2 separate regions of the Homo sapiens genome follow, and region 2 is linked to region 1. The links come from fine-mapping of genetic effects on gene expression. A gene starts in region 1. The other region holds a variant in brackets. All regions are shown on one strand. Distances are from middle to middle.

Region 1 (4,000 bases):
TATATGGAGCAGATTCTGGTCTGCCAAAATTTTTCAGGATTAAAAAGCAAGATCTTGGCCGGGTGCAGTGGCTCACGCCTGTAATCCCAGCACTTTGGGAGGCTGACGGGGCGAATAACTTGAGCCCAGGACGAGCCTGGGCAACATGGAGAAACCCAGACTCTACCAAAATACAAAAAAATTAGCCAGGCGTGGTGGCACGTGCCTGTGGTCCAGCTACTCAGGAGGCTGAGGTGGGAGGATCGCTTGAGCCCAGGAAGTAGAGAGTGCAGTGAGCCGAGGTCGTGCCACTGTACTCCAGCCTGGGCGACAGAGTGAGACCCTGTACCATGCTCAAACACGAGTTGGTCTTGAACTGATCATATCGGGGGGAGATTTCTTCCATGAGTTAAGCCACCTAAGAACTCCACTATTCTGCAAAGTTAACATTTCCTTAAACCCAGCTCTCCATATATATTACTGAACTTCTGCCTGGGTCATTTAAAAAGCCTTTCAAGGCAGCCCGCCCAGCCCCCAGAGCGGCCTGGCTGAATTTCTCTGTAAAGCTCCCTCCTAGATTTTATCCCTTGGTGTTGGCAAGAAGGTCTCCTTACTCCACAGGCCTTGCTATTGTGCAACTGATTTAAGGATGGTCCAGGCCTAACTGCATCGGATTGGTTGTAGTACAGCTCCTGAGCCCTGCCCACAGGAACAAGGCTAGCAATCCTCTAGACCGCAGGAGCTGCGAAGTCCCCACCCTCTAGCAAGAGGCCACCCCAGCACCAAAAGAAGACAAAGTTCTGAAGTTAAAAAGGAGGCCCCGTTCCCTTCAATAAGGCTCCTCAAAATCGCTTTCCAGGCTCCTCCCTCTGGAGGACAGCCCAGTTAGGGCACAGACAACCTTTGAGCTCTCTTCCCGTGACCAAGCTTCACCTCTACCCCAGTATTACTTATTTGTAAACAGTTCCTGGTCATGCTTTGAAAAGCAATGCCAGGGAACCACCCTCTCTCTGGATTGCCTCTCTCTAGCCCCTTCCACAGGATCAAGCAACCACCCCACCCAACTGGGGTGTCCTTGACAAAGGTCCTTCAATCCATTTCCAAAGGCGTCGCTGCCGAAAGACACCCTACCTTAAGGCTGTCAGCACCCTACCACCCCCACCTACTTTCCCTTGGCTATTACTTGAGCTTTATTTTATCACGCTCTCCTCCCGGCCTGGGGACTCCCCTCACCCGTGGGGCCTCGTCCAGCAAAGTAAACAATGCTGTCAAAGCGGGATAACGCTGGGCGAGGCTTCCAGACTCCGCATTCCAGCCTCCTCCCGGTGTTCTAAAAGCAGCAAAAACAAGCCATCGCAGGATGCCAGGGCCGAATTCCTCTCCCAAAGTTCTTTTTTAAAAAGCCCCGGAGCCAGCTCCAAAATCAAGCATTAATTTGCACAATCTACGACAGGCAATGCAGACTGTAATGCAAGGCCAAGTGGAGCCAAATCCGCCCGGGAAGGAGGCAGAGAGGAGAGAGAGAACTGGGTCGAATGCGTAAGCCTGCCACGAAGCGGAAACAAGAGCTCTTTTTCGCGACAGGACAGCCACATTCCCGAGTGGGGCGCGCGCCGACTCGAGCTGCGGGCAAGAGCGAACACGAAGTAAAGGGTCCCGAACGCTCGGGCGGGCCCAAGGGCAGCGTCCCCGGGGCTTCGGTGGAGCTGGGGGCGGGGGCGAAGCGGCCGGGCACCGAGGCGCCGAGGAGTTAGAGGACCGCGGCGGGACACCGGGCGCGGCGGACGGCTGGCCGGCGCTCACCTCCCGGTGTGGTGGAGAAGAGCGTCCCCCCGGGCGTGGTGCAATAGTCATGAGGTAGCTGCGCGGCGTCGCTGATGGCCACGGTGCGGGTGGGGATGGCGCGGCTCTGGCTGGGCTGGTGGCCGCTGCCGGCTGACGAGGACATGGCTGTGGGCGCGGGCTCTCGGCTTTGTCCGGCGGGCAGGCGGCGGCGGCGGGGCCGGGGCTGCTTCGGCTCCTCAGGCGGACGGAAAAGCGCGCTCTGCGCGCTCCTCGCTCGCTTCCTCCCGTTCCCTCGTCCCGCTCCGCTCCCGCCGCCGCCCTCTCAGCCGCCGCCGCCGCCGCCGCTCGATCCTCCGGCCTCAGCCAGCAGCCTCAGGAGCAACAGCAGCGGCAGCAGCGGCGACGACGACGACCGGAAGCGGGCGAAGGCGGGAGCCAGAGGGAGTTGGGGAAGCTGGTCGGCCGGAGGTGACGTCGCCGCGGGGCGGGGCGAGGCAGTGAGGGGCGTGGCTGAAGTTGTTGAAGGGGGCGGGGACGAGGGGCAGGGCTGAGGAAGAGAGTGGCTTAACCCCAGCGAGCGGGAGAAGAGCCAGAGGGAGCGCGAGCTAAGTGTTTGTGAGCCTGGTGAAGGCGGACAAGGAAAACTTTCTTCTTATTGTTTGTCATTGTCGGTTAACACCACTTTACTTGAGCAGACTTGAGTTTCTCATGCATTCCTATGCATTAAAAATGTAATTTTACTTTTAATTGTTCATTATTAATTCAGGCACTACATGCACGATGTACTGTATTTTAAAAATCAAACAGAGCAGAAAGGTTTATGGTGCCACTTTCTCCCAGTTTCCGAACTCCCCTCAACCGCTGTACCAGTTAATTGTGTATCCTTCCAAAGACCATCACTATATACACACATAAAGCAAGATCTAAACATTAGGAAAAGGAAGAAACCAAGAGCCACTCATGGCAACAAGAATGAGTATTATTGTATTAGAGTTAAAATGAGGCACAGGAGAGGGCTTAGACCATGAGGTACCTGAAAAATCTAGATCTGGAACTCTATTCTTTCCTCGAGGGGTTCTCAAACTTTGGGTCTCAGTACCTCTACATTCTTGAAAATTATTGAGGATTTCCAAGAGCTTTTGTTTGTGTGGATTATATGTATTGATAATTATTGTATTAGAAATTAAAACTGAGCCGCTGCTGATCACTAGTGGGATTGTACCTGTGAATAGCCACTGCATTCCGGCCTGGGCAACAGAGTGAGGCCCTGTCTCTAAAAAACAACAACAACAACAACAACAAAAAACAAATTAAAACTGAGAATGTTTTAAATGTTTATTAATTCATAAAATAATAACCTATTACATGTTGACATTATATTTTTTAATTATCTAAAACAAATAGTGAGAACAGTGGCATTATTTTATATTTTTGCAAACGCTTTAATATCTGGCTTAATAGAAAACAGCTGTATTCTCATATCTGTTTCTGTGTTCAAGCTGTTGTAATGTGTTGATTCAACTATATGAAGAAAACCCAGCCTCACACAGGTATGTAGTTAGAAAAGAAGGTTGTCTCAGATCCCCGAGGGGCTCTCCAGATCACACTTTGAGAACCGCTGCACTAGGGCAGCACTACTTCTGCCCACAACATGCCCAAGGTGGGACTGGGAAGACACTCATGGGTAAGGCCAACATAGCTACCATCATTCCCATTTTGCAAATGAGAGAAATAAGGGTAAGAGAGGTTGAGGGGAAAACAGCTATTGCTTCACTGCTCAGAGGGTCAAACAGGTGCTTGGCAAGAACATAGACAAAAGAACTTACAACAGCCCAGGGCAGGCCAGGGCATTACATGGTACTGATTTTGTGGTGAGTGCCCCAAGAATCCAGAAAAAAAAGTCCCCTGCCTGTCCTGCCATCTGGAAGCTGCCAGAGTTGCAGAGGGCTGAGTTTAACCTTGAAAGACTCTGAGACTTTGGACATGCCAACAGAGACACTTCTAGTGGAAGGAAAGGGGAAGATACTAGTTTACATTTGTGTAGAGCTTACAGTGTGTGGTTGATAAAGTGCATCAGTCCAGTAGGGGCACAGTAACTCACACCTATAATCTCAGCAATTTGGGAAGCTCAGGTAAGAGGATGGCATGAAGCCAGGAGTTCAAGACCAGCCTGGATAAAAAAGCGAGACCCTCCTCTCACATTTCTACAAAAATAAAAATAAATAAAAAATTATCC
Region 2 (4,520 bases), 46 kb after region 1:
GAGACCCTGTCTCAAAAGAAAAGAAATGAAGAGCAAGAGAAGGAGGAAGAAGAGGAGGAGGGGGAGGAGGAGGAGGGAGATGGGGAGGAGGAGGAGGAGGAGGAAAGCAATGAGGAACCAGGTGTGGTGACTCACACCTGTAATCCCAATGCTTTGGGAGGCAGACTGGGATCACTTGAGGCCAGGTATTTGAGACCAGCATGGGCAAGATAGCAATACCCCATCTCTAGTAAAAACAAAAATAAAAGAAATGCGGATGGGCGCAGTGGCTTACGCCTGTAATCCCAGCACTTTGGGAGGCTGAGGCGGGTGGATCATGAGGTCAGGAGTTCAAGACCAGCCTGGCCAAGATGGTGAAACCCCGTCTCTACTAAAAATACAAAAATTAGCCGGGTGTGGTGGTGGGCACCTGTAATCCCAGCTACTCGGGAGGCTGAGGCAGGGAATTGTTTGAACCTGGGAGGCAGAGGTTGCAGTGAGCCGAGATCACGCCACTGCACTCCAGCCTGGGCAACAGAGGGAGACTCCACCTCAAAAAAAAAAAAAAAGAAAAAGAAAAAAAATGCAGTGGAACAACGGGGGTTCAAGGGCAGGAGCAATTACATTAGTTGAGGACATGAACAGAGGCTTAGTGGAGAGGAGGCATTTAAACAAGTCCTTGAAATACAGTGTTGACGAGAACTTTTGAAGCTAAGGGAGAACATTCTACTTAATGGGAACAGTACCAGCAAAAATGTAGAGGTGGAAAAATAAAGGGAGTTGCAGGGAATAATAAGCAGCCTGGCTTGGCCAGAGGGCAAGAGCTTTGATGAAGAGGTGCAAGAGGGATATCTAGAAAGGGAGGTGGGAGCTGGATCCTTCTGTGTGGATGCTAGGCTTTGGACAGTGGGGTCAGCACCTCCAAACTAGCATGGAGAGTATAATTTTGAGACAAGGTCTCACTCTGTTACCCAGGCTGAGGTGTGGTGGCATGATCTTGGCTCACTGCAGCCTCAAACTCCTGGGCTCAAGTGAGACTCCCAAGTAGCTGGGCCCACAGGTGCATGCCACCACACCCAGTTAACTTTATTTTTTATACAGACGGAGTCTCACTATGTTGTCCAGGCTGGCCTTGAACTCCTGGGCTAAAATGATCCTCCCATCTCTGCCTCCCAAAGTGCTGGGATTGCAGGCATGAGCGACTGTGCCTGGCCTGGCATGGAGATTCTTGAATGGGAGAGTGATGTAATGGAAAGTGGTGTTCAGGTGTTCGAATGGAAGGGCGGGGCTGGGGTTTGGAGGGCAGGGAGAGGGATTCTTCTGTGTAGATACAGCCACAGCCTTTGTCAAGGCAGATTCCAGGATCACAGAGCTAGTTTCTTTCAGGCTGCAGTAAAACCATAGTAGAATAATTACTTTGCTGCAGACTAGTGTGTTTCTTGCTTTGAACTCAACACCTAGATAAATATTAGCTCATTCTTTTCTTCATTCCCTAAAAGCGAATTTGTACCCCCATTTTACAAAGTGGGATGCTGAGACCAAGCTTCCCGATGGTGAGGGGTGTAACTATGTTCAGAGCGTTTGCCCAGCGCTGTACTGGGTGCGAGGGGTGGTCCGCAGAGGCTGCCTGTGCCCCTACATAAGCTCACCTCTTGTGGGTCCTGGAGGCAGGCTGCAGATCTCTACCAGCCAGGAGAAAACAGTCCAGGTCCCACGCTAAGACAAGTGTCCTGAGGTTTGAGGTGGGTGCCCTTTCTGGGGAGGTGGGGCTAGGCTGGTGGGCAGAGAGGGGAGGGAGGGGCATTCTAGACTGCGGTAGCCAGTCAGCATGGTCGGTGAGCTTGAGGAGTGGCAGGTGGTTGAGGCCAGCCATGCCAGGCAGTGGTGTCTGTCTGGGGCAGACGTGGTGCACAAGGCACTGGTTGGCGACATTTGTTGCTGCTTCCTGGGTCCCATCAGTCATGCATCTGTGAGATCAGGAGGACAAACAACTGTTCTGAGAAGCCATTGCTTACAGGGGTGGATTCCTTGCTATATCAAGCCCTGAAAGATTGTCCGAGGAGGAGAAAGTTGCTGTAGAAATCTGGTCAGTTGGTAACTGCAGCCCTCTATCCCCAGGGTGCTGTGTCGGTTCAGCGGGTGTGGCTCTCGCAGCTTCCATCTGCTGCCCCCTCGCCCTCTGCCCTGCTCCAAGTGGATTGCGTTGTTTGGCATCTCATCACACCCGAAGATAACCTTGAGAGTAGTTTTGTGCATCCCACATTTGGAGAGACATAGGCTGTGTTCATTTCTGTGTTTCACAGATAGGGAGGTTGAGGCCCCATAAGTGACTTGCCCAAAGACACTGGGTTAAAGGCAGCAGCAGATCCGGGTTTCTGGACTTTCTCTGTAGGGCGATGTTCTCAAGAAGATGTCAAACTCTACCCTTTGCCTACTTAGTGTGTGGCTTTGAGCAAGTTCTTAACTTCTCTGGGCTTTTGTTTCCTTCTCTGCAAAAAGGGACTGATTGATGCTTTCCTTGCAGGAAGACCTCAGGGCCTGCCCAAGCCTCTCCAAGGTCTGGCTTGGCCACGTGGCCTCCTCCACTCGGACCAGCTGTGGTCCCTTTAGAGCCATTAGTGGCCATACTGTTAGTGTCATCCTGGCTGCTGTTTCT[A/G]TTCCCTTTTGTATGTATACGTTTGTGATGAGTCATCAGTGAAATCAAAATAATTTAATGTCTCAAATTGTTGACTGTGTGTCATTTGATTGTATTCTGTGTGGGATTTACTTTTGATTTTAATTGAATATGGGCTTCTTTTCTCCTTACTGGCTTGCCAGGAAGGAGGGTTTTTTTTGGAAAGTCCCAGAGCCCATGATAGCACATGCGGTTGTCTCCTCGTCCAGGGCTTGTGAGAATAAATGCAATCCAGAGGTCATTTCTCTCCTCCAGGGATGACAGAGCTGAAGCACATCTTTGTCAGATTCTCAAATAAAAGTAATACTTTTGCATCCTCATAGCAGCATCTCTTACTTACTGAGCACAAACTACCTGCCAGGCACTGTGCTAAGAGCCTTGCAGACGTTTTATTTCATGCTCAGAACCACCTGTTCGTTGGATCCTGTTGTCCTCATTTCTTTTTGAGGTATATTCAAATACTGTAACGTTTACATTTTAAAATATACAATGCAGTATTTATTTGTATATTCACAAGATTGTATAACCATCACTGCTGTCTAATTCTAAGCCATTTTCATCACCCAAAAAAGAAACCCTGTACCATGCGGAGTCCTTTCCCATTTCCTGATCTCCGCCCAGCCCCAGGCCATTACCAGTCTACTTTCTGTCTCTATAGATTGCCTCTTCTGGACATTTTATGTAAATGGAATCATGCAACATTTGTCCTTTTGTGACTGGCTTCCTTCACATAGCAAAATGTTTTCAAGGTTCATTCATGTTGCAGCCCATGTCAGGATTTCATTCCTTTTTATGGCTGAATAATATTCCATTGAATGGATATATGACATGTCCTTTATCTGTTCATCAGCTGATGGACATTTGGATTGTCTCCACTTTTCAACTATTGTGAAAATGCTGCTGTGAACATTTATATACAGGTGTTTTTTTTTGTTTTGCTTTGTTTTTTGTTTTGTTTTGTTTTGAGGTGGAGTCTCATTCTGTTGCCCAGGCTGGAGTGCAGTGGCGCGATCTTGGCTCACTGCAACCTCCGCCTCCTGGGTTCAAGCAATTCTTCTGCCTCAGCCTCCTGAGTAGCTGTGACTACAGGCACCTGCCACCACACCCTGCTAATTTTTGTATTTTTAGTAGAGACGGGGTTTCACCATATTGGCCAGGCTGGTCTCAAACTCCTAACCTCGTGATCTGCCCGCCTCGGCCTCCCAAAGTGCTGGGATTACAGGTGTGAGCTACTCTGCCCAGCACTACATACAGGTTTTAAAACTTTATTTATTTGTTTTTATTTTTTTGAGACAAAGTCTCAAAAGGTCTGGCTCTGTTGCCCAGGCTGGGGTGCAGTGGCATGATCTTGGCTCACTGCAACCTCTGCCTCCCAAGCTCAAGCGATCCTCCCACCACAGCCTCCCAAGTAGCTAGCTGGGACTACAGGCATGCACTACCACACCCAGCTACTTTTTGTATTTTTTATAGAACCAGGGTTTTACTGTGTTGCCCAGGATGGTCTTGAACTCTTGAACTTAAGTGATCCTCCCACCTTGGCCTCCCAAAGTGCTTGGGTTACGGGCGTGAGCCACCATGCCCAGATTGCATACAGGTTTTTGAAAGAGCTCTTGTCCTCACTTTACTGAAGAAGAAACTGAGATTGGAGTTAAGTAACTTGCCTGAGGTCCCACAGCAAGAAAGAGTTGGCCCAAGAAAGGATTCAATTTGGATTCTGAGAAGAAGATATTGCTTTCTAGGTCTCTTGTGTGGTTAGAAGTTATTCTGACTGAGTATGATAGCCACTGGCTGGAGGGCCTCATGCTCAGCTTTCTTCTCTGAGGCCAACTCTCTGTAGCACATTATTTCCTAGAGAGGCAGGGGCTTC

What was found. PIP is the estimated chance that this variant, and not a neighbour inherited with it, causes the effect.
Region 2: its variant is the best candidate, but not a certain one, in a credible set for the expression of EIF4EBP2 in whole blood (TOPMed, PIP 0.58).

What each region holds. Positions count from the first base shown.
Region 1 is chr10:70,402,329-70,406,328 of GRCh38, reverse strand. EIF4EBP2 (eukaryotic translation initiation factor 4E binding protein 2) reads right to left here and starts at 2,184. Exons shown (of 3, transcript NM_004096.5): 1 at 1,783-2,184. The coding sequence starts at 1,927. RefSeq lists silencers at 1,883-2,092, 2,123-2,312.
Region 2 is chr10:70,355,948-70,360,467 of GRCh38, reverse strand. All of the region lies in intron 2 of LRRC20 (leucine rich repeat containing 20), which reads left to right. Among named protein-coding and RNA genes, the nearest start is that of LRRC20, 24 kb to the left of the region's middle. The variant A/G (reference allele first, on the strand shown) is at 2,636.